3 separate regions of the Homo sapiens genome follow, and regions 1 and 3 are each linked to region 2. Evidence: fine-mapped expression QTL. A gene starts in region 2. Each other region holds a variant in brackets. All regions are shown on one strand. Distances are between the middles of the regions.

What was found.
Region 1: its variant is fine-mapped to the expression of HAGH in cerebellum (GTEx, PIP above 0.99).
Region 3: its variant is fine-mapped to the expression of HAGH in whole blood (TOPMed, PIP above 0.99).

The regions. Positions count from the first base shown.
Region 1 is chr16:1,855,630-1,863,806 of GRCh38, forward strand. It overlaps MEIOB (meiosis specific with OB-fold), which reads right to left. Exons shown (of 14, transcript NM_001163560.3): 4 at 6,356-6,487; 5 at 4,774-4,846; 6 at 2,106-2,301. Among named protein-coding and RNA genes, the nearest start is that of MEIOB, 12 kb to the right of the region's middle. The variant C/G (reference allele first, on the strand shown) is at 3,453.
Region 2 is chr16:1,822,110-1,830,286 of GRCh38, forward strand. HAGH (hydroxyacylglutathione hydrolase) reads right to left here and starts at 4,716. Exons shown (of 9, transcript NM_005326.6): 1 at 4,603-4,716; 2 at 756-928; 3 at 191-255. The coding sequence starts at 4,678. It overlaps FAHD1 (fumarylacetoacetate hydrolase domain containing 1), which reads left to right and starts at 5,097. Exons shown (of 1, transcript NM_031208.4): 1 at 5,097-6,801. The coding sequence starts at 5,130. The coding sequence ends at 5,795. RefSeq lists enhancers at 1,793-1,862, 5,127-5,316 and a silencer at 4,067-5,036.
Region 3 is chr16:1,572,312-1,580,488 of GRCh38, forward strand. All of the region lies in intron 13 of IFT140 (intraflagellar transport 140), which reads right to left. Among named protein-coding and RNA genes, the nearest start is that of IFT140, 36 kb to the right of the region's middle. The variant T/C (reference allele first, on the strand shown) is at 5,114.

The DNA of each region.
Region 1 (8,177 bases), 34 kb after region 2:
ATAAACGTAATAGCACTGTCTAGAATTTGGGGAAATCGCAAACAATTGAGCACTCCTTTGAACAACTGAATAGGATTGAACATAAACTGCCTACAAAGTGACTTCTCCTGTTTTTCAAGATGATCATATAGCGGGCTTATTCCTTCTCCCTAAAGTATACAGATGCTCCCCAGGTGGCAGGCATGTCCTCCACAGCCAGGGCCCTGCCATCTGAAAGGGTCACGTTCTCTCAGTCACCATTTAATATAACAAGCAATTCACATTTACTTACATGAACTATCATAAGCATGTGTGTTTTTTCCTTTTTTTTTTTTTTTGTCTCTTGACTATCATCCCTCTCTATATTAAGAAATTACTCTTGCCTCTTTATTTATTTATTTATCAACCCAGAATCTCGCTCTGTCGCCCAGGCTGGAGTGCAGTGGCGCCATCTCAGCTCATTGCAACCTCTGTCTCCTGGGTTCAAGTAATTCTCCTGCCTCAGCCTCCTGAGTAGCTGGGACTCCAGGTACCTGCCACCATGCCCAGCTAATTTTTTTTTTTTGAGACGGAGTCTCGTTCTGTCGCCCAGACTGGAGGGCAGTGGTACGATCTCGGCTCACTGCAACCTCCACCTTCCAGGTTCAAGTGATTCTCCTGACTCAGCCTCCCAAGTAGCTGGGACTGCAGGAACCTGTCACCATGCCCAGCTAATTTTTTTTTTTTTTTGAGTCGGAGTCTCGCTCTGTCGCCCAGGCTGGAGTGCAGTGGCGCAATCTTGGCTCACTGCAAGCTCTGCCTCCCGGGTTCACGCCATTCTCCTGCCTCAGCCTCCTGAGTAGCTGGGACTACAGGCGCCCACCACCTCACCTGGCTAATTTTTTGTATTTTTAGTAGAGACGGGGTTTCACCGTGTTAGCCAGGATGGTCTCGATCTCCTGACCTCGTGATCCTCCCGCCTCAGCCACCCAAAGTGCTGGGATTACAGGCGTGAGCCACCGCACCAGGCCACCCAGCTAATTTTTGTATTTTTAGTGGCGATGGTGTTTCACCATATTGGCCAGGCTGGTCTCGAACTCCTGACCTTGTGATCCACCCGCCTCAGCCTCCCAAAGTGCTAGGATTACAGGCATGAGCCACCACGCCAGGCCTTTTTTTTTTTTTTTTTTTTTTGAGACAGGGTCTCCCTCTATTGCCCAGGCTGGAGTGCAGTGGCATGATTTTGGCTCACTGCAACCTCAACCTCCCAGGCTCAGGTGATCCTCCCACTTCAGCCTCCCAAGCAGCTGAGATTACAGGTACACACCACCACATCCGGCTAATTTTTGTATTTTTTGTAGAGATGGAGTTTCACCATGTTGCCCCAGGCTGGTCTTGAACTGGGCTCAAGTGATCCCTCTGCCTTGGTCTCCCAAAGTGCTAGGATCACAGGTGTAAGCCACTGTGCCTGGACTAATTTTCATGTACTTTATTTTGTGAAACTTTACCGTTGAGGTCTACATCTCAATCTCCGCCTTGTGGCTCTGGTCTGTCCAACTACAGAGCTCAGAACTTGCTACAGTAATTCAGACAGACGCTGATGCACCAGAAGGGAACACCCCCCTGGTGCCCCACGGAGGGCCATCCTCCCGTGCACCTCACCAGCATGGTCCCACTGCACCTATTAGACCATGGAGCCCTACAGCAGGGCAGCGTGTATTCCCACTCCCTCCCTGGTTGCTGGGCAGCTCTGAGCACAAAGGCACAGAACTGATCCCTTAACTTATTCAACTACGCCCCTTCAAGGAAGGTCATGGAGATTTTCGAGTCAATAAGCTTACCCTTTCCATTTACATCTTTGTTTAAGCAATGTATAAAAAGTTCTCCTATAGTTAGCAGATCATTTACGAGCAGAGTGGAACACTGCATTTAGCATTCAAATACAATTTTATTTTACTACTCATCCACAGATAAAAAGCTAGTTTCCCTTTAATGAGAAGTGTTACTGTTTTCTTAATTCAGCATACTACCAAGATAGAGAAGAAAAGTTACCCCAGCTGATCGTGACCACTCCATCCCAAACACAGATCAAGTGACTGCACCTCCCCTGCCAGATTGCACTTGGCTTTGTCGGGGTTTTAACTTACCGATTTCACAGCTGCAAGCACGTTAATAATCCTCCCATTAAGACTGTGTCCATTTGCAACAATGTCACCCAGTGAATAATAATCATGAGACTCTTTAACAGGTAAATGTATCAAAGAAAGTAACTTTGTGTCCACTTCATAACTGGAACAAACTTTTACTGTTGAGTGATTCTCACTGAGCAACAGTTTACAGTTGCTAAATTGCAAAAACACAAGAAAGTTATTTGAAAGTGATCTTTGGAAAGAAAAATATTTCCAGGTCCACATTTAAACTACATTTTTCATTGAAATTTAGACAATACTAATATATACTTTTTACTCTTAGAAACATTGAATAATACAGCAAAACATTTTTTGTTTACAGTGCACTTTCATTAAGGAAATGTTTTGAGAATTGATTCGTGTCGGGGTTCTAAACATACCATTTGTCTGATCTTGCCCAAGACTCTGCGCTTGTTTCCTTCTCCAAAAAAATAGGAGCAAAAAAGCGCTCTGAAACTTTCAGGGGTTATACAAACCCAAGGACTGGTTGTTTCTCTCTCTTATGGACCTGGCTGTTCTGCCTTAGTGCCTCAGGTCAGGGACTGTGTTTTTCCTACCCCTACTGAGCTCTGCATGGAGCAGACGCAGAACACTGGCACAGTGAGCCCGAACTGAGGAGCTCTCCCTCCTGCACCGAGTCCCTCCCGGCCCTTGCACTCTGTGCCCCAGCAGTCCTCTAACCCAGCCCCACCTCCTCCCCACTGCTCGGCCTCACTTACCTACCTCATCACTTCTCTCCCAAGCCACTGCCTTGCTATCCTAACTAAGCTTCATTCCCCTACAGTCCATCCTCCATAAGCAAAGTGATCTTCCTAAACCACAAATATGAAAATATTATTTCCCAGCTCAAAGACCATCATTGTGGCTACCAGTCACAAAGGAAATAACTCAGTATGAAAGCAAAGCTGTCTGTAAAATATCTCTGCTTCCACCTTAAGCTTCTCCTCCTGCCCGTGCCCTGCATTCCAGCCGTATCAGACTATTACATTATGAAATTGGTATTTCTAGATGAAAAATAGTAAAACATCAGCAGTTTCATATGGCTCAAACTAATATTAACTGTTCTGGAAAAGACAGGAGGTTTCCTGTTTCTTCCCTCTACCAAGAATATTCTCTCCATCTAACCATCCATCCATCACTTCCATGAATACTGAGAATCTGTTATATACCAGACCCTATGCTAGGCACAAGGGATATGGTGGTGAAGAAGGCAGACAAGACCTTTGATCTCATGAGGCTCACATATGTGAGGGGGAGACCCAAGAACAATGAATCAAACAATCTCAGACGGTGACTTGGGTTATG[C/G]TGACAAAAGCCAGGGCAAAATCCCAGTAATTGACCATTAGCGCTACCACAAACAGAGTAGATGGGGAAGGTTGAAGAAGATGACATTTAAGCTGTGAGTCAATAACCCAAAGAAGCAAATAGTCAAACAGATGGGAGAAAGTTCTATGCAGAGAGAGAATAGAAAATACAAAAGTTTGGCCAGGCGCGGTGGCTCACGCCTGTAATCCCAGCCCTTTGGGAGGCCGAGGCGGGCGGATCACTTGAGGTCAGGAGTTCGACACCAGCCTGGCCAACATAGCAAAACCCCGCCTCTACTAAAAATACAAAAATTAGCTGGGTGTGGGGCGTGTGCCTGTAATCACAGCTACTTGGGAGGCTGAGGTGGGAGAATGGTTTGAACCCAGGAGTTAGAGGTTACAGTGAGCCGAGATCGTGCCACTGCACTCCAGCCTGGGCAACAGAGTGGGACTCTGTCTCAGTAAAAAATAAAAAATAAAAATAAAAGGAAATACAAACGTTCTTAGTGCAGAATGAGTTCACGGTGTTCATGAAATATAAAGAAATTCACTGTGGCTACAGAGAAATGAGGCTTGAGAGTCTGGCATAAGATGAGGTCAGAAAAGAAGGTGGGAACGGGTCACAGTTGATGCGAGTGTAAATGCTGTAGACTGCTGTGCCCACCAAGAGCCCTTTACAGGCTGGTACAGGGCACAGCTACACCCTTCTCTCCAGAACTGCCAGACCCGCCTTTGAGCTGATGCCCCGCCCCATCCTGCGGGTTTGGGGAGTGGATGGACTACAGCCAGGGCACTGCTCTAAGGGGCCACTCCCACTCCAGAGCTCCCTCCCGGCTCCTGCTGAGGCTCCAGGTGAACCCACTTCTCTGCTCAGCTGCTTCCTGGTCTATCCTCGCAGGGTTCCCCTGAGAGCTCACCCTCAACCAACCACTCCCACAAGAGTCCTCCTCTCAAGCTCTGCTTCGAAGGAATCTGCCCTAAGATGGTAAGCCTGTGAGTAGAAGGATACCTTGACATGAAAAAAGACAGATGTAATTTCCAAAGTTTATCTTTTCTCCTCATTCAGTTTTAACATGACAAAGTCAAATTTTTGTAAATCTAAGAATGAGAATCAAAGTACTAAAACCAAAGCCATTTATCATGTGACTCTGTATCAAAGTAAATTATGTCATAATCAAAGATGAATTTTGTAAGAGAAAATTAAACTCCTCATTTTTATTGAAATAGAAACAGAACACTTTTAGTAAGATCTCTGCTAATCTGATACAACATTATTAGTAATGATCATTCTCGCACAATCTCTGTGCTAGACAGATGCTTACCTAGGAGTTGCAGGGCTGAATTTTTCTTCTCTTTCTATTTCCTTTCTTTGGATCAGAGGATTTTCAATTATCACTAAAACAGAGGGCAAAGTATGATGATATTACAAAACAGTAACAAGATAAACACTAACATCCTAAATAACATCCTGTTTAATTTATGATCATCATCGACTCTAGGCTTTAAAAATTCCTCACCTCATTCATCTTCTCCATCATCAACATATAACATATTTTGATACTGAGATGTCAAAATTGAAATCTTTATCTCCATATGTAACTAATATTCCAGCATTTATTCAAGGGATGTCTATAGCTATACTGGGCCCTATGAAGTTTGTGAAGCTTTCTGCCTTCATAGTCCATATGTTCAATGACCCTATTATTCAACTAGAGAGATACCATACATTGTCCTGAAAGTTAACAATACAAGGCAATATATGATTAGGTTCTAAATAACCGGTATGGGGAGTCAGCTGCTTGAGACCACAGTATTAAAGAGGAGTGTTTTCATTACCTGCATTACTCTTTTCTCTTTTTCTATCGTGAAGAACTAGTATACATGCTTTCTTGTTCCTTTTATGAGGCTAGGGCTCATAAAAGTTATCTGTTGAGTGACTAAGTTCCACACGTTATACTAGGTACACCATCTCATTTAATATTTACAAGAACCTAATGAGGTATTATTTCATAGTTGAGACCCAACAAGATTAAGAAATTTTCTCAAAGCCATGATGTAAGTCAATGTTGGAACTGGGATTTGAATCTAGACCTCTGTGTTTTCAAAGTCTCCTGTTCTTCCTACTATATGAGGCTGTTCTGTCAAAGAGATACTGGGGTGAGTAGATGTAAAAGATTTGGTATTTCAACTAAAAGTAAAGTTCCTTAAAATCCCATTAACAATTTAAATATCAGTTTTTATCAAAATCTATTCAGTGGTCAAATGTCAACTTTTATCAAAATATATTCAGTGGCTGTATTATATGTCTATAGAAAGATAACCAATTATAACAATAAAATGGGTTGGTGCAAATTGAAATATGTAATAAACCAAAGACAGTAAGGTTATTTAGTAAAAATATAACTATCACATTTGTATGCTTCAAATAACATTCTGAATGCCTCGCATTGCAGTCTTTTTTTTTTTTTTTTTTTTTTTTTGAGACAGGGTCTTACTCTGTGACTCAGGCTGGAGTGCAGAGGTACGATGTTGGCTCGCTGCAACCTCCACCTCCAGGGCTCAAGCCACCCTCCTGCTTCAGCCTCCTTAGTAGCTGGTACTACAGGCCCACGCCACCACACCCAGCTAATTTTTTGTAGAAATGGGGTCTTGCCATGTTGCTCAGGCTGGTCTCGAACTCCTGAACTCACGCAATCCACCCACCTCAGCCTCCCAAAGTGTTGGGATTACAGGCATGAGCCACCGTGCCCCACTGCATTATACTCTTAACACTTGACTTTTTCTGATAAAGTTCTTGAGAATTACGAACTGTGTCTCATTTCAACTCCTTCAGTATAGTTACCATAAACATACCACAGGAATAACACTATGATGGAAAAAGTTTAAGAATCAATGCCAACTTACCACAGTCACCAACCCTAAAGCTGTCAGAAAGAGACTTGATGTAATCTTCATTGCCCCAGGAAGCTGCATTTACAAAATGTGCTGGTGAATCCCGAATGGTGAAGCTGAAAGTGTACCTTTCTGATCCAATATCTAAGGGAAAACCAATGCTTTTATTTTTCAAATGAAGAGTTTCAATCGCTTCTCTGCCTTTTGATAAGTGTTACATGAAAAGTTTCATTTCAATTATAAACAAATGATTATTTGTTTAATCAAATAACTATTGATTATGATAATAAAAATACTCAAATACATAGTACAAAATGTTCTTTCAGATGTATATTCTATAACATGCTTCTATGAATTTCAAGCTGAAGTGGTAACAGGTTGCCCCCTTGCTCCCTTCCCTGGTGATCTGTGTATTTGGAGGGAAAAACATGTAAACTTGAGCCATCCAGGTATTACCTTAGGTTCTCCTTTTCTCTCTTACTGTTGTTTCAACCTAAGTCATAATTCAGATCTAAATAGTTATTTCAGTCCCAGCTACTTAGGAGGATGAAGCAGAATGACTGCTTAAGCCCAAAAGTTCAAGGCTTCAGCGAACTGTGATTGCCCCACTGCTCTCCAGCCTGGGCAACAGAGCAAGACCCCGTCCCAAAAATAAAAGTAAAAATAGGCCGGGCGCAATGGCTCACGCCTGTAATCCTAACACTTTGGGAGCCCGAGGCGGGTGGATCACCTGAGGTTAGTTCAAGACCAGTCTGGCCAACATGGTGAAACCCTGTCTCTGCTAAAAATACAAAACTTAGCCAGGCGTGGTGGTGGGCGCCTGTAATCCCAGCTACTCGGGAGGCTGAGGCAGGAGAATCGCTTGAACCCAGGAGGCGGAGGTTGCAGTGAGCCGAGATCCAGCCTGGGTGACAAGAGAAAAACTCTTGTCTCAAAAATAAATAAATAAATAATAATAAAATAAAAATAAAAATTGGCCAGGCACAACAGCTTACCCCTGTGATCCCAGGACTTTGGGAGGTGAGGTAGGAGAATCACTTGAGGCCTGGAGTTCAAAACCAGCCTGGGCAACATAGAAGGACACCATCTCTACAGAAAATTTTAAAATTAGTGGTGGCACTCATCTTTAGTCTCAGCTACTTGGGAGGCTGAGGAGGAAAGGTTGCTTGAGCCCAGTTTAAGTGTGCGGTGAGCTTTGAATGCACCACTGCACTCCAGCCTGGGAAGAATGAGTTCAGGGTGTTCATGAAATGTACACCCAGGCTGGAGTTCAGTGACGCGATCTCTCGGCTCACTGCAACCCCTGCCTCCCAGCAGCTGGGACTCAGCCTCCTGAGCAGCTGGGGCTACAGACGCACACCACCATGCCAGGCTAATTTTTGTTTTTTGTTTTTTTTTTAGTAAAAACGGGTTTCGTTTTTGTTTGTTTTTGAGACGGAGTTTCGCTCTTGTTACCCAGGCTGGAGTGCAATGGCGCGATCTCAGCTCACAGCAACCTCTGCCTCCTGGGTTCAAGCAATTCTCCTGCCTCACCCTCCCAAGTAGCTGGGACTACAGGCGCCTGCCACCATGCCTGGCTAATTTTGTACTTTTAGTAGAGACGGGGTTTCACCATGTTGGCCATGCTGGTCTCGAACTCCTGACCTCGTGATCTGCCTGCCTCAGCCTCCCAAAGTGCTGGCATGAGCCACCGTGCCTGATGAGACAAGGTTTTTTAGTAGAGGTGGGGAAGAACAGAGTGAGACCCTGTCTCAAAAAAAAAAAAAATAAATTTTAAAAATAATTAAAATAAGTTATTTCAAAACAAATTATGTGCTACTTAATGAGGACCACT
Region 2 (8,177 bases):
AGAGTCACTGAGCACCAGACTTGCCCCTTGGGGGCTACGGTGAGTCCCGGGTCTTTCTCAGAAGTCTGCTGGGGGCTTGTCCTCACAAAGCAGACAGAGCCGTGGGGGGAGACAGGCCTTGATGTCCCTAAACCCACCGGGGCGAGAAGTGAGCCAGGTCCCACACCCCCAGGTGAGACGCGGCACTTACCAGTGGTGGTGGGTGGTGAGCACTGTGGTCAGTTTCACCCCGTGCTTTCTCGCCGCGTCCACGACCTGCAGTGGCCCCGGGGAAGGACAAAGGCCTGTCACACTCCTAGGCCTGGCTTGCTGGCCTATATGGTAGGGTGCCCAGCAGAACCCAGGACACGCCATGAGGGGCCGCTGACATGGCCCGTCCTGACCCTGCCAGCTTGCCCTGCTCCAGGAGAGCCAGTGAAAGCACCTTCTCCTTCCTGCTCAGCCTGACACTCTTGCAACCACCTACGACCGCTCCAAGCCCCTCCAGCTCTGAGGGCACCACCCCCAGAGGCAGCATGCAGGGGCAGAAAGCCCCCAAGAAGACTCAAGTGCCCAGGATTGTACTGCACAGCGCTTTCTGTGTCACTGCCTCTCGCCTCCACCCTTCTTGGAGCCCTGTTAACAGAGTGGCCGGAGACTAATTTCCATTTAGCTTAGGCAAAGTTGCAAGGACACTGCGGTTAGGAAACCCATCGGGGGTGAGGACTCCGAGCTGGGTGACCAGGGCAGGGAGAGCCAGGCACAGCCATGCGCACCTTCTGGGGCTGCACCGGATCCACAATGGCAGCCTCCTTGGTCTCATCATCAATGACCAGGTACATGTAGTTGTCGGTCAGGGCAGGCAGCACCTCTACCTTCATGGTGCCCTCGTCCACGGTCAGGTTCTTCCGCAAATCTGTGTGGCAGAAAACTCCCAGCAGGGCTGGACCTGCAGACACAGAGCACAACTCAGCGGGCAGCCGCGCCAGGCCCTCCACGACAGGACGCGCAAGCTGCAGTGCTTCCCAGCCTTTCTAGGTTCCTTTGAAAAGGAATATTCTGGCCAGGTATGGTGGTTCTTGCCGGGAATCCCAGCGCTTTAAGAGACTGAGATGGGAGGACTGCTTGAGGGCAGGAGTTTGAGACCAGCCTGGGCAACATAGCAAGACCTTGTCTTTTTTTTTTTCTTTTTTTTTTGAGACGGAGTCTCGCTCTGTCGCCCAGGCTGGAGTGCAGTGGCGCGATCTCGGCTCACTGCAAGCTCCGCCTCCCAGGTTCACGCCGTTCTCCTGTCTCAGCCTCCTGAGTAGCTGGGACTACAGACGCCCGCCACCATACCCGGCTAATTTTTTGTATTTTTTAGTAGAGACGGGTTTCATGGTGTTAGCCAGGATGGTCTCGATCTCCTGACCTTGTGATCCGCCCACCTCGGCCTCCCAAAGTGCTGGGATGACAGGTGTGAGCCACCGCGACCAGCCAAGACCTTGTCTTTGCAAATTTAAAAATTAGCCAGGCATGGTGGTGCATGCCTGTGGTCCCAGCTACTCCGGAGGCTGAGGCAGGAGGATCACTTGAGCCCAGGAGTTTGAGGCTGCAGTGAGCTATGACTGTGCCACTGCACTCCAGCCTGGGTGACAAGACAATAACCTGTTCCTTAAAAAAAAAAAAAAAAAAAAAAAAAAAAAGGAATATCTTCATATATCCCTGAGGAGAACACAGGAACTAACTCATGCTCACATTCATGGAAATCAATTGTTTCAGACTTACGATCTCTATTTTCTTTTTTGAGAACTCTAAAAGGACAGGAAGGCCAGCTTGTGATTGTGAGGCGAACCACTGCCAGTGCTGGATTATTCACACCCCGGACTCAGGGACAGAATGTGAAGAAGGGAACACAGACTAGGGGTGCCCCCGCCTGGCCATCTGCCCTCCAGCAAGCTGTGCTGCCACCACTGACTAAGCGAGCCTGCGTTCCATGCAGTTACAGCCCTTCTCAGCCTCTAGCCAGAAAGAACCAATACTTGACGGCAGGCTGAGGCAGGAGAATTGCTTGAATCCGGGAGGTGAAAGTTTCAGTGAGCCAAGATCGCCCTACTGCACTCCAGCCTGGGCAACAGAGTGAGACAGTCTCAAAAAAAAAAAAAAACAAACAAACAATACTTGCTCTTGAACAGCACGAATCTGAGATATGCACAAAAATCAGCAGTTCCTTTGAGACGGAAAGTTGGCCACAACTGCCCCCAGATTCAAGTGTGGAGGACACAAAACCACCATCCAACTGACCCAAAGGACTCTGCCACAGGGGCCCAGAAGGCCCAAGAGCTGGGAGGAGTGGGTGACCAAGGGACAAAAGTGTCTGCCACCCAGTCGACCAATGCAAAAATATTTTCAGCAATGAAACTCCTACTAAATCTAAAAATACCTGGGGGCCCCGACAATACCTTCAGTTCCGCTCTACACGGGGAAGAAACCACAGAAGGTGGCAGAGGACAGTGCAGTCCTGGGGTAGGTGCCACGGCAGGGGCTTCTCCCAAAAGGGATCCAGAAATGGGCAGCAGCCACCAACTGACAGACACACGCGTCTCCAGGGCCCACCGAAATGCGGAATCCGACCTTATTTCCACAGCCGGGGAAACTGCCCAAACTATAGTTTCAATCACTGCACAAAGATATCCTATTACCCGCCTGACAACCAGCTGGGCATTTTCCAGATCATTCTCCTCAGGAACAATAATACCAAGATTTCTATATGAGCAGCTTCCTGTGTTATTCCCCTTCCCCTTAGCCTCAGCACCACCCCAGCCCAAGGAGCACAACAAGCAGAGTGTGGGTGCTGGGGGCTGCAGGTGGGGTGCAGAAGGGTTGTGACAGGATTCCGAGTGCCGGGCGTCCTCCTGGAAAGGAGCTCCATTACAAACAAGGAGCAGAACATTACAAACAAAAATACTGCCCACGTGCGGTGGCTCACGCCTGTCATCCCAGCACTTTGGGAGGCCGAGGCGGGCGGATCGCGGGGTCAGGAGTTCGAGACCAGCCTGACCAATATGGTGAAACCCTGTCTCTACTAAAAAATACAAAAATTAGCTGGGCGTGGTGGCGAGCGCCTGTAGTCCCAGCTACTCAGGAGGCTGAGGCAGGAGACTCGCTTGAGCCCGGGAGGCAGAGGTTGCAGTGAGCCGAGATTGGCCACTGCACTGCCCAGGCGAAGAAAATGTCATTTACAACTGGTGCTCAGCCTCCCCTGGAGACCATCACAGCCTCCTGAAGAAGCTGACAACCCAGGGAGGTGCCTTTATTTCTGAGGAAAGACGCAGCTGGTGCCAACACCAGCAGAAACCGTATTCCCTTTCCATATCACTCAGCCCAGCACTGCCTGGCAAATGTTCCCGGCTTGCTGTTTTGTAACTGTAATACTTTGTACAAACAGGTCAAGGACCTGCAGCCTGGGGCCTGGACCAAGTCCAGAAACATGTTCGGTTTGGCCCCAAAAACAAAAAAAAATTGAGATATGGTCTCACTCTGTCCCCTAGGCTACAGTGCAGTGGTGCGATCAAGGGTCACTGCAGCCTCGACCTCCTGGACTCAAGCGATCCTCCCACCTCAGCCTCCAAAGTGACTGAGACTACAGTTGTGTGCCACCACGCCCGGCTGATTTTGTTTAGTTTTTGTAGCGATGAGGTCTCAACATGTTGCCAGGCTGGTCTGGAACTCCTGGACTCAAGCGATCCTCCCGCCTCGGCCTCCCAAAGTGCTGGGATGACAGGCGTGCGTCACTGCACTTCTTTTTTAAATCAGGAAGTTTCACAGCATCTTGCTTCCCTTGAACTGGGCGGCACCAAATACGGGGGCTGGGGCCTCCCTTAGAATGGGGTACGCACGCCCTGCCGATGCACACAGTCCCGCTGGAACTCTCTGCCTGGACCCTTATGAATGTCCCTAAAACTGTAATTCTGAGGACCTCAAAATCCATGTCCTTTCCTTAGCAATGGCGACATTCTACCCCCTGCAGAGCCTTGACAGCTTTCGGCGAGATCTGGAAACCGCCAGGGACGCCTCCCTGTCTGCGCCTCCGCCCGCCCAGTGCCCTGCGCTGCGCACCCGCCCGGGGCGCTGGCCTGGCCCGGCCGCGCGACCACCTCGGGCGAATGACACGCCGGGTCCCCAGACGGGGGCTCCGGCGCCGGGCGGGCAGCTCCACCACCGCAGGCGGCGCCGCGAGACCGCGGTCCTTGCAGCGGGGCAGCAGGTGCGGGGTGGGCCAGGCGTCCCGGGGCCCTGCCCGCTGCGCCTCAGAGCCGCGCCCCAGGCTCTCCTCGGCGCCGGCCCGGGCAGGACGCGATGCCCTGGAGGCGTCAGGGGCGCGGCCGGCCCAGCCCGAGCGTGGAGGCCGCGGCGGACGCAGGCCTGGCCCTGCTTACCTAGCGCTTTCCGCACCCGCGGCCCCGCGCCCGCTCCGCGCCAGCCTCAGCGCCTGCGCCGCCTCCGCTCGAGCCCGGCAGCGCGGCCTTAGGCACCTGCGCAACAGACACCGCGTCAGCGGTCGCCAAACGACGGCCCGGCGCCGCCCGCTGCCCGCCCCGCCAGGCCCGCGTCCCCCGGCCCGCACCGCCCCGCCGCACCCACCGAGGCCTCGGCGGGCGCAGGCGGCTCCCAGCGCGGCGAGGCTGCGGCGGCCGAGCAGCCCTCGGCCCACCACCATGACCCGGGCCGGGCTGGACTGCCGAGCTGCCCAGGACTGCAAAACACCGGCGTCGGCGCGTCGCAGCCAATCAGCGCCCGCCTCGCGCTGCCCTCAGCCAATCAGCGTCCACCTCGCACCGTCCGCCAACCAATCAACGCGCTCGCGCTCAACTTGTTTTGTCCGCGAGCCCCGACTGCCACGGGCCGGGAGACGGGCCTGGGAGCGGCGGCGGCGGCCCGAGAGCTGCGCCGGGAGAGCTGTGCCGCGAGCCTCCGCCTCTTTTTTGGCACCGCACAGTGGATCCCTGGAGGCCGAGCGCCACGCCGCCCGGGTACCCGGCAGATCGCGAGGTGGAACGGGCCGTCGCTGCGGGGGACAGCGTTCCGAGGCAGTTGGTCCTCTCCGGGATGCCGTAGGCATCAGCTGACCGGCCCAGCCCACGTGACTACAGGGGCACTTGATGGGAATCATGGCAGCATCCAGGCCATTGTCCCGCTTCTGGGAGTGGGGAAAGAACATCGTCTGCGTGGGGAGGAACTACGCGGACCACGTCAGGGAGATGCGCAGCGCGGTGTTGAGCGAGCCCGTGCTGTTCCTGAAGCCGTCCACGGCCTACGCGCCCGAGGGCTCGCCCATCCTCATGCCCGCGTACACTCGCAACCTGCACCACGAGCTGGAGCTGGGCGTGGTGATGGGCAAGCGCTGCCGCGCAGTCCCCGAGGCTGCGGCCATGGACTACGTGGGCGGCTATGCCCTGTGCCTGGATATGACCGCCCGGGACGTGCAGGACGAGTGCAAGAAGAAGGGGCTGCCCTGGACTCTGGCGAAGAGCTTCACGGCGTCCTGCCCGGTCAGCGCGTTCGTGCCCAAGGAGAAGATCCCTGACCCTCACAAGCTGAAGCTCTGGCTCAAGGTCAACGGCGAACTCAGACAGGAGGGTGAGACATCCTCCATGATTTTTTCCATCCCCTACATCATCAGCTATGTTTCTAAGATCATAACCTTGGAAGAAGGAGATATTATCTTGACTGGGACGCCAAAGGGAGTTGGACCGGTTAAAGAAAACGATGAGATCGAGGCTGGCATACACGGGCTGGTCAGTATGACATTTAAAGTGGAAAAGCCAGAATATTGAGTTATTTCTTAACAAGTTTCGAGAGAGAAGGGAGCAAGACAAGAGCAAGCAACGGCTATTAAATGTCACAATCCTTTAATTAGAAACCATTTATTGGCCGGACGCGGTGGCTCACGCCTGTAATCGCAGCACTTTGGGAGGCCGAGGCGGGCGGCTCACGACGTCAGGAGATCCAGACCATCTTGGCTAACAGGGTGAAACCCCGTCTCTACTAAAAATACAAAAAATTAGCCGGGCGTGGTGGCGGGCGCCTGTAGTCCCAGCTACTCTGGAGGCTGAGGCAGGAGAATCAATTGAACCCGGGAGGCGGAGCTTACAGTGAGCTGAGATTGCGCCACTGTACTCCTGGGCAACAGCGAGACTCCGTCTCAAAAAAAAAAAAAAAAAAAGAAACCATTTATTTTAAAAATGATTAGATTGCTATGCCTCAACTCATAGAAGATGAACCCTTCAAGAAAACGTGAAGTAGAACGGGTGGGCCAGAAATGAAAACAGGCAAGTAAAGTATTTCTTCGGAAAACATTTTATCAAACCAAATGTTAAAAAGACTTTCCTTTTGTAAAACTGGATTAGAGAAGACTTTTCAGTGGGTTATCTCTAGGATGATCAGTAGTTCAGCACTTAAAAACTGCAGAGAAAACTGAAAGTTATGTTCCAGATAACTTTCCGTTGTTTACCAAATTTTCTTAGATTTGGTCATCATCAGGAAGCATTTGTAAAAATAAAAATCTCCACAAATTACTGGCCCATCTCGGACTTGCTGAATCAATTTGATAGGATTAATCTCCAGTGAAGCTGTGTTTACAGGGCATTCCAAGTGATTCTTATCAGGAAATGTGAAAAACACTCCTGTACATAATCGGTTAATTTAAAATTTTACTTAATAAGTGAACAAGTAATGAAGATTTCACCTGTTTACTTAGGGTATCTACCCAGACCCATCGATTCTGAGTTCGGGAGATGATTTTGAAATTACTGTTTTCCAAATAAAGGTGCTCCCTTCTAAGTGGCTTACAAGGGTAATTTTTTTCCCCCCAGTAATGACGAGGAGGGATATTTCCTCCTTGTGGGGCTTCAGACCTTAGTCTTTGACCTTTGGCCTTCTGAGCACTGTGCTGTGTTAACACAGTTAATCAGCAACTGTACTTCCCAACCGGAGATAAGGAGGCTTTGTGGAAGTTGAATAGCCTGGGACTGCTGCTTTTGCTCTTGCCTGCACCCTCCTCTGAAAAAACATCCAGGCAAGATGCACAGCATAGCTGTCAATGCCTGGAGGAGTCCTTTGGGCTTCGGCAGGGGTTCCTGTTCGCGTTCACATCATCTGCTGGCCCCTGAAGAAAGCCTAGGACATCTGATTGAGTAGTAACGGTCCCCATGTATTGAACACAGTACTGTTAGGCACCATGCCAAGCAGTTTATTCTGTATTTCCACGTGTTATGTAACCAGCAACCAAGCCATAAGCTTAGTATGATCACTACCATCCCCATTACTCAGATGAAGACAGATCTAGAGGCTGCGAAGGCTGGCTAAAGTCACTCAGCTTAGTGGCAGAGCCGAGATGTAACCCAGCTCCCCCAAGACCAGAACGTGAAGTTTTGACCACAATGCAGGCTGCATCTTGTAAGTAGATACATAAGAAGAATCAGACACTTAGGTATGCTGCAACCCCATGCTTAAATTATAATATAGTATGAGGAAGTGCCATAATTGGATTTCTTTATTAAGTATCATGCTATCTTAACTACTTTTAGTATTATTTTTTCATTGCTTGGCAATGCATGTAATTACAGAAGAGTCAGAAAATAGAGATTAGCAATTAGAACAAAACACCAAAAATTTCATCTACCCAGAGACAGCCAAAGTTAAGCATTTATTGCAAGTTCTTCCAAGTCTGTGGATATAATTGTAATTTTTTAAATAGAGTTTGCTCATACCATACAATTTTCTTTTTTTTCTTTCTTTCTTTTTTCTTTTTGAGATGGCGTTTAACTCTTTTTGCCCAGGCTGGAGTGCAGTGGCACAATCTCGGCTCACTGCAACCTCTGCCTCCCAGGTTCAAGTGATTCTCCTGCCTCAGCCTCCCAAGTAGCTCAGATTACAGGCATACGCCACCACACCCGGCTAATTTTGTATTTTTAGTAGAGACAGGGTTTCACCATGTTGGTCAAGCTGGTCTCGAACTCCTGACCTCAAGTGATCCACCCGCCTGGGCGTCCCAAAGTGCTGGGATTACAGGCATGAGCCACCGTGCCCAGCTATACCATACAATTATTTAACTTGCTTATTTCACTGTATATTGTGACCATCTTTTTCCTTGTTAGCTGACACATTTCTGCAGTACAACTTTCATGGATTGCATAAGATTCTGAAGTCAAGCCTCC
Region 3 (8,177 bases), 250 kb before region 2:
AGCATGTTAGAAAGCACGTCCCACAGTCGGCACGTTAGAAAGCATGCCCCACAGGCCGGGCGCGGTGGCTCACGCCTGTAATCCCAGCACTTTGGGAGGCCAAGGCGCGTGGATCATGAGGTCAGGAGATCGAGACCATCCAGGCTAACACGGTGAAACCCCGTCTCTACTAAAAATACAAAAAATTAGCCGGGTGTGGCGGTGGGTGCCTGTAGTCCCAGCTACTCGGGAGGCTGAGGCAGGAGAATGGTGTGGACCCGGGAGGTGGAGCTTGCAGTGAGCCGAGAACATGCCACTGCACTCCAGCCTGGGCGACAGAGCAAGACTCCATCTCAAAGAAACAACAACAAAAAAGAAAGCATATACCCCACAGTCACCCCACAGTTGCGCTGGAGCAGACCTCATGCTTTGTGGTGTGTCTTTTAGGGACTAACCTTAATCCTCTGAGTTTCAAAGCGAAGCTCTTGGCTCAATTCAACCAATGCCCAGTGAATGCCTACACCCTGCCCAGCAGTGGGTTGGGGGAGGAGCATCACAAGTGAGTGGCACATCCCCAGGGCACTCCACGTGGGGGCAGCGAGTCAGATGCGAACGGCTGAATGCATCCTGGGGCCAAGACAGGCAGCAGGGAAGGCACAGATCTAGTGCATGGGAGCTGCACAGAATCTGAGTGGCAAGGCAGGCTGGAAGGTGGGCAGAGCTCCAGGAGAACTTAGTGGGCACGGAAATCTAAACACAGACTCCAAAAGCCAGCAAAGGGGCAGGAGCCTGCACAGTGTGTTTAGGAAACTGAGGGTGAGGGACGGATGGCTGGAGTCAGGGTGGGAGTATTCCAAGCTGAGGAAGCTCACTTCATTTTGATGTATCCAGTGGGAGCCTAATAAATGCTTATGGAATGAGCAAGTGGCTGCTTGAACACAGGATAAAAAGAGCAGGGGGAGCGGACTAGCTGATGGGGCCAGGGCTGACACTATTAATGATGACAGAGAGCACTGGAGGCTCCTCGGTGAGCTCACTCCCTGCCCTGCCCCTTACCTGCTGGGTCCCGGGTTCAGATCTGAGCTCAACTCTTTTACATTCTTTAACATCTCTATGTCAATACATTCCCAACTCCCAAAGTACTGTCTTCAGGGCACTGACCCAGCTCCTGACCTCCAGAGCTTGTATTTCCAACTGTCTCTTAGACACCCCTAAGGGCTCTCCAAGGCACCACGAACTCGAACTTGCATCCTGCCCTGCCCCCTATGCCAGCTCTGCCTCTGGAGTTCCTGTCTTAAAGGTGCCACGACAAACCCAACCTCTCAGGCTAGAAAACTCAGAACATCCTCAGTTCTATACTCTCTGTAGCCACCCATCATGCAACTAGTCACCCCCCTTATAAGAGCCACAGTGCCCCTCCACTCCAGCTCTGCTGGTGGCTGCTGCCTGGGGCCAGGCTGAGCTGCTCTCCTGCGGCGTCTCCCACAACTTCACTCTTCTCCACCCTTAAGCTTGGCTCCCCACTACGCTGGCACAGAAGTTACTTTCTAGGGAGAAAATAACACAAAGCCAAGAAAATAAGTCAAAATTGGGGAAAGGAAAGAACTGTTATCAGAGGAAGGTAAGTCCTTTTCAGGGATCAGGCCCCCAGAGACCTTAAATGAGGCAGCAGCCACGCCCTGCTCTCCCTTGAGCTGTGTTCTTCTCTGGAAACTGCCTGCTGCCGCCACAGGTAGCTGAGAACTAACCTGATAAGCTGCCGCAGACCATACCTGCACCAATGCTCAGCCCATTGCTAATCAATGGCATTTCCATCAACCAAAGAGGATTCCTGACCAACAACCTGACATTAGCCTGTGCCCGGTCCCTCTTTTCGGCCTTAAAAACCTGCCTGTAACAAACGTAAAATGGAGCCCAGGCCCAGTGTTCCTCGGGGCTGAGTTTTCTGGGCAGCTGCCTTTATCCTGGCTCAGGTAGACTACTCACTTAATTACTTATTTATTTTTGAGACAGTGTCTCACTCTGTTGCCCAGGCTGGAGTGTAGTTGTACAACCACAGCTCACTACAACCTCAACCTCCCTAGGCTCAGGTAATTGTCCCACCTAAGCCTCCCAAGTAGCTGGGACCATAGGTTTGCCACCATGCCTGGCTAATATTTTTGTATTTTTTTGCAGAGACGAGGTCTCACTATGTTGCCCAGGCTGGTCTGGAACTCCTGGGCTAAAGCAATCCTCCCACCTGGGCCTCCCAAAGTGCTGGGATTACCGTCATGAGCCACCATGCCCAGCCAAGTAGACTGTTTAAATCACATTTTGTGCTTCAGTCTCTTTTTGGTCAACAAAATGTACCCTGTCACTCCTAGCTTCAACCCCAACTGCCCTCAGGGTGACCAGCCCTCCTGCCTCCCTTCCCACCTCCCACCACCAACTGGTCCCATATCCCACCCCCTTCCATGGCACTTGACCTTTGCATGGGAGGCCCCTCCCTCAGGTTCTCCATGGGGCAGATGTGACTCCCTGAAACATACGCAGGGCTGGGGCCCCAAAGTTCTGGCCTAGGAAGCTGTCCTTTTAAGGACTGGAAGCTCCTAAGTGTCTGTAGTCACTGCGTCCCTGACACAAACACTAACAGCAGCCATGCATCTGCATCCTGAGGAGGGATAGTGACCTGGAAGGACATGCTGGGTGTCCAAGAAGGGTCATGAGGGATCACTAACCCACCCTTACTCACGCCAGAGCCACCTTACTAGTTACAACTGACATGTATTCCTTTTGTAACTTAATAAATTAGTGGCCAGGCATGGTGGCTCACACCTCTAATCCCAACACTTTGGGAGGCTGAGGCAGGAGGGTCACTTCAGCTTGGTTCAAGACCAGCCTGGGCAACATAGTGAGACCCCATGTCTACAAAAATATAATAATAATAATAACAAAATTAGCCAGGCATGGTGATTGGCACCTGTGGTCCCAGCTACTTGGGAGGCTGAGGCAGGAGGATGAATTGACCCCAGGAGTTTGAGGCTGCAGTGAGCTATGATGGCACCACTGCACTCTAGCCTGGGCGACAGGATGAGATCTTATCTGTAAAAAAATAAATAAAAATGAAAATAAAAAAGTAGCCAGGCATGGTGGTGCATACCTATGGTCCCACGCTCAGGAGGCTGAGGTGGGAGGATCGCTTGAGCCCAGGAGGTCAAGACTGCAGTGAGCTATGATTGCCACTGCAGTGCAGCCTGGGCAACAAAGTGAGACCCTGTTTCTGAAAATAAAATAAAATAAAAAATTAACAGAGGAATAAAAGGACCCAACTCCATGGCAACTGTTGTTAGGTATCTTCCCAAGCTCTACAAGTAGGACTTCTCAGTGGGCCCACTGTTATTTCCCATCATGCCACTAGTGTTCTCCCAGCAGGCCATTCACCCTTTCCCATCATGCCACTGGCCTCTCCCAGCAGGCCATTCACCCTTTCCCATCACACCACTGACCCTCTCCTAGCAGGCCATTCACTCTTTCCCATCATGCCACTGGCCCTCTCCCAGAAGCCCATTCACCCTTTCCCATCATGCCACTGGCCCTCTCCCTGCAGGCCACTGGTGCCTGCACAGCCCCACCTCTGGAGGTCTTTTCTTGGCAAACACAGGTCTTGAACAACACAGGTCTGATTTTCAAGGGCCCACTTACATGAACTTCTTTTTTCAATAAAGATATTTAAAGGCCAGGCGCAGTGGCTCACACCTGTAATCCCAGCACTTTGGGAGACTGAGGCGGGTGGATCACCTGAGGTCAGAAGTTTGAGACCAGTCTGACCAATATGGTGAAACCCCATCTCTACTAAAAATACAAAAACTAGCCAGGTGTGGTGGCACATGCCTGTAATCCCAGCTACTCGGGAGGCTGAGAAAGGAGAACTGCTTGAACCTGGGAGGTGGAGGTTGCAGTGAGCCGAGATCATGCCACTGCACTCTAGACTGGGCAACAGAGTGAGACTCTGTCTTTAAAAAAAAAAAAAAAAAAAGTATGGCCGGGTGCAGTGGCTCATGATTGTAATCCTAGCACTTTGGGAGGCCGAGGCGGGCAGATCATGAGGTCAAGAGATCGAGACCATCCTGGCTAACACGGTGAAACCCTGTCTCTACTAAAAATACAAAAAAAATAGCTGGGCGTGGTGGTGGGCGCCTGTAGTCCCAGCTACTCGGGAGGCTGAAGCAAGAGAATGGCGTGAACCCAGGAGGCGGAGCTTGCAGTGAGCCGAGATCGCACCACTCCACTCCAGCCTGGGTGACAGAGGGAAACTTCGTCTCAAAAAAAAAAAAAACAAATTTTGACTTTTTTTTGGAGATTTGTAACAATTTGAAAAAACTCAGACAAACTATGTAGCCTAGAAAGAACAAAAAAATTAACAGGTATGTCGCGTATGCATAAAATATAGGTAGATACTAGTCTTTTATCAGCCACGTCCATAAAGTATACACAAATGTGCACATGCTTCCAGAGATGGCACTATGTGCAGCTGAGCGAAGTGTAAACCAACAGAAAGATGCGATCTGCAATCATAACTGCAGACAGGGAGCTGTGGCCCACATCGTGCTCCTGTCGGCATTTCACAGCTGCCTCCTGTTGCCACTGTGCTCAGTTTCACTCAAGTGTTTCGAAGATCCCCTTAAAATGTTGTGCAGTGCTAATCACCTCCGAGTGGGCAGCTCCTCTCTCCAGCAAAATGCACATCACATTAAAAAGTGACCTCTCACGGTTCTAGAGGATTTTTCATGCATTTCGTGCAATACTGTAAAAGGTGAATAACCCCAGGGGGACCCATGTGACATGCCACTAGTGATGCTGGAAGTGCTCCCGAGAAGCAAGGGAAAGCCGTGACATTACAAGAAAACGTGGAATTGCTTGATATGGACAGTAGATTCAGGTCTGCAGATGTGGACGCCACCTGTGGATGCCACCATTTCAGAAAGATGATTCATCCTATAGACTTAGGGTATCGATAAACACAGTACAGTACTATGAATGTATTTCTCTTCCTCATGATTTCTTAGTAGCATTTTCTTTCCTCTAGCTTACTTTACTGTAAGAATGCACTATGTAATACATAGAACATATGAAATATGTGTTAATCGACTGTTCA[T/C]GTTGTTGGTGAGGCTTCCAGTCAATGGTAGGCTGCGAGTACTGCAATTCTGGCAGAGTCAACAGTTATATGGGGATTTTCAACTGCTCAGGTGGTTGGCGCCCCTACCCCTGCATTGTTCAAGGGTCGTCTAAGCAGCTGCCCCTCATCTGTCCTTAAGAACACAGCCTGGCCGGGCCGGCACTTTGGGAGGCTGAGGCAGGTGGATCACCTGAGGTCAGGAGTTCGAGACTAGGCTGGCCAACATGGTGAAATCCCGTCTCTACCAAAAATACAAAAAATTAGCCGGGCGTGGTGGCGGGCACCTGTAATCCCAGCTACTAGGGAGGCTGAGGCAGGAGAATTGCTCGAGTCCCAGAGGCGGAGGTTGCAGTGAGCTGAGATTGTGCCACTGCACTCCAGCCTGGGTAAAAAAAGCAGAACCCCAACTTAAAAAAAAAAGCCTTGCTGTACCTCCCTTTATGTCCACAACAGATGCCCACATGCAATGGGAGGAGTCAGAGAGGCATAGGTAAAAAGACGGAGGGGTGGGCAGGGATGGCAGCAACAAGTGTGCTTGCTCTGGGCTTGGGATGCCCAGAAGGCTCTCAACTACTCCCTTCCAGCTTTACTGCCTCCCCTCGCACCCAACAGGCTGCAGGAAAACATGTGGTCGCGGCAGCTCCCTCTGCCCGTACTTCTCTCCCAGCTGGCACTGCAGCCATGCGGCTCCTCCCCATGTCTTCCCTCCACCTGATTCAGACAGAAGTCCTACACAGAGGGGCCCACCCGCTTCCGTCTTCTCCTTGGCACTTATCGCTGACTTGTCTCCCGTCTGGATGCCAACGAGAATTGACAATCCATGATGGGAGCACACAAGCACCATGTAAGGTACAAGGACAGGAATGTGGCCGCCCCAGGCAATCAGACGCTGGGTCCCAAGAAGGAACTTGGAGATGGATAAAAATCACAACGATAGCTAAAATCAGGCTCGTGACAAAAGCTCTCAACCTGGTCACAGAACCTTGCTGCACACAGTGGGCTGAATGGTGCCCCTCCCAAAGATATGTCCACTCAGACCTGTAGTCCCAGATGCTTGCAGGGCTAAGGCAGGACAATCACTGGAGCCAGGAGTTCAAGTCCAGCCTGGGTGACATAGTGAGATCCTGTCCCTTAAAAAAAAAAAAAAAAGACATGGCCGGGCGTGGTGGCTCACGCCTGTAATCCCAGCACTTTGGGAGGCAAAGGTGGGTGGATCACGAGGTCAGGAGTTCAAGACCAGCCTAGCCAATGTGGTGAAACCCCGTCTCTACTAAAAAGAAATACAAACATTAGCTGGGCTCCGTTGCCCAGGCTGGAGGACAGTGGTGCAATCATAGCTTACCGAAGCCTTGACTGCCCAGGCTCAAGCCACCCTCCTGCCTCAGTCTCCTGAGTAGCTGGCACTATAGGCGTGCGCCACCACACTCAGCCAATTTTTTTTTGTTCTTTAACAGATGGGTCTCAATATGCGGCCCAGGCTGGTTTCAAACCGCTGGGTTCAAGTGGTCCTCCCACCTCGCCCTCCCCAAAGTGCTCAGATTACAGATGTGAGTTACAGCGCTCGGCCTTTATATAACTTTTGACTTCCCCAAAACGTTAACTAGTAACAGCCTATTGTTGACAACAAGACTTACCAATAACGTAAGCAGTTGATTGACACATATGTATATGTTGTATGTATCATATACTGTTTTTCTCACAATAAAGTCACCCAGAAAAGGAAAATGTTATTAAGAAAATCGTAAGGAAGGGAAAATATGTTTACTATTTGTGAGGTGGAAGTGGGTCATTATCGAGCTCTTCATCCTCATCATCTTCACACTGAACAGGCAGAGGAGGTTGCTGATCTTGGTGTCTCGGGGTGGCAGAACCAGAAGAAATGTGCATCTAAGTGGCCCCTGCAGTTCAGACCTTGTGGTTCAAGGTCAAGTGCACAAGCCAAGGAACAGCAAAGCCTGCCAGCGCCACCTCATGCTGGAAGAGGCAAGGTGGAAGAGCTGGAGGCTCACCCTCAGAGCCTCCAGAAGGCACCAGCCTGGACAGCACCTGGATTGCAGACTTCTGGCTTCCAGAACTGTGAGAGAAAAAATGTCTGTGTCGGAAGCCCCTCGGTTTGTGGTAATTTGTTAGGGCAGCCACAGGAAATCAACACACTGTGTCTGCCCCCAGGTTCCAGCCAGTGTGTGTGGGATGCAGACGGGGCAGTGGATGCCTGACTTTACTCAGAAGGGAACCTCCTGGCCAGGCGTGGTGGCTCACGCCTGTAATCCCAGCACTTTGGGAGGCCAAGGTAGGCAGATCACGAGGTCAGGAGTTCGAGATCAGCCTGGCCAACATGGTGAAACCCTGTTTCTACCAAAAATACAAAATTAGTTGGGTGTGGTGGCGCACACCTGTAGTCCTAGCTACTCAGGAGGCTGAGGCAGGAGAATCGCTTGTACCTGGGAGGCGGAGATTGCAGCGAGCTGAGATCACGCCACTGTACTCCAGCCTGGGCGACAAAGCAAGACTCCATCTCAAAAAAAAAAAAAAAAAGAGAACCTCTTAGAGGTCGCCCTGGCCCTCCCACAAGACACATGCGGGAGACAGCCTGGCTAAGGACATTATGTCCTGAACTGGAGCCACCCAGCCAGCCGTCAGGGTGCACGTTAAGCCCAGCAAGGATTTATTTTCTTTTCATAGCCCCGTGTATTCAAAGTCCTGCAAAGTCATCCTTTTCACTGCAAAAGGTCCTTGCCTTGTCTCCCGATTTCTGAAGTGACAGCCACAGATTAAACAGCTGTCCTAGGATTCATTTTCACCATCAAGCACCTGACGCGGGAAATCCCATCTAGCGAGGTGATATGGTTTGGTTCTGTGTCCCCACCCAAATCTCACGATGAATTGTAATCTCCAATGTTGGAGGTGGGGCCTGGGGGGAGGCGACTGGATCATGGGGGTGGTTTCTCACAGTTTCCTAGTGTGTTCTGTGATAGAGATCTGACGAAATCTGGCTGTTTAGAGTGTGGCCCCTCCCGCTTCGCTCTCTCTTCCTCCTGCTCCG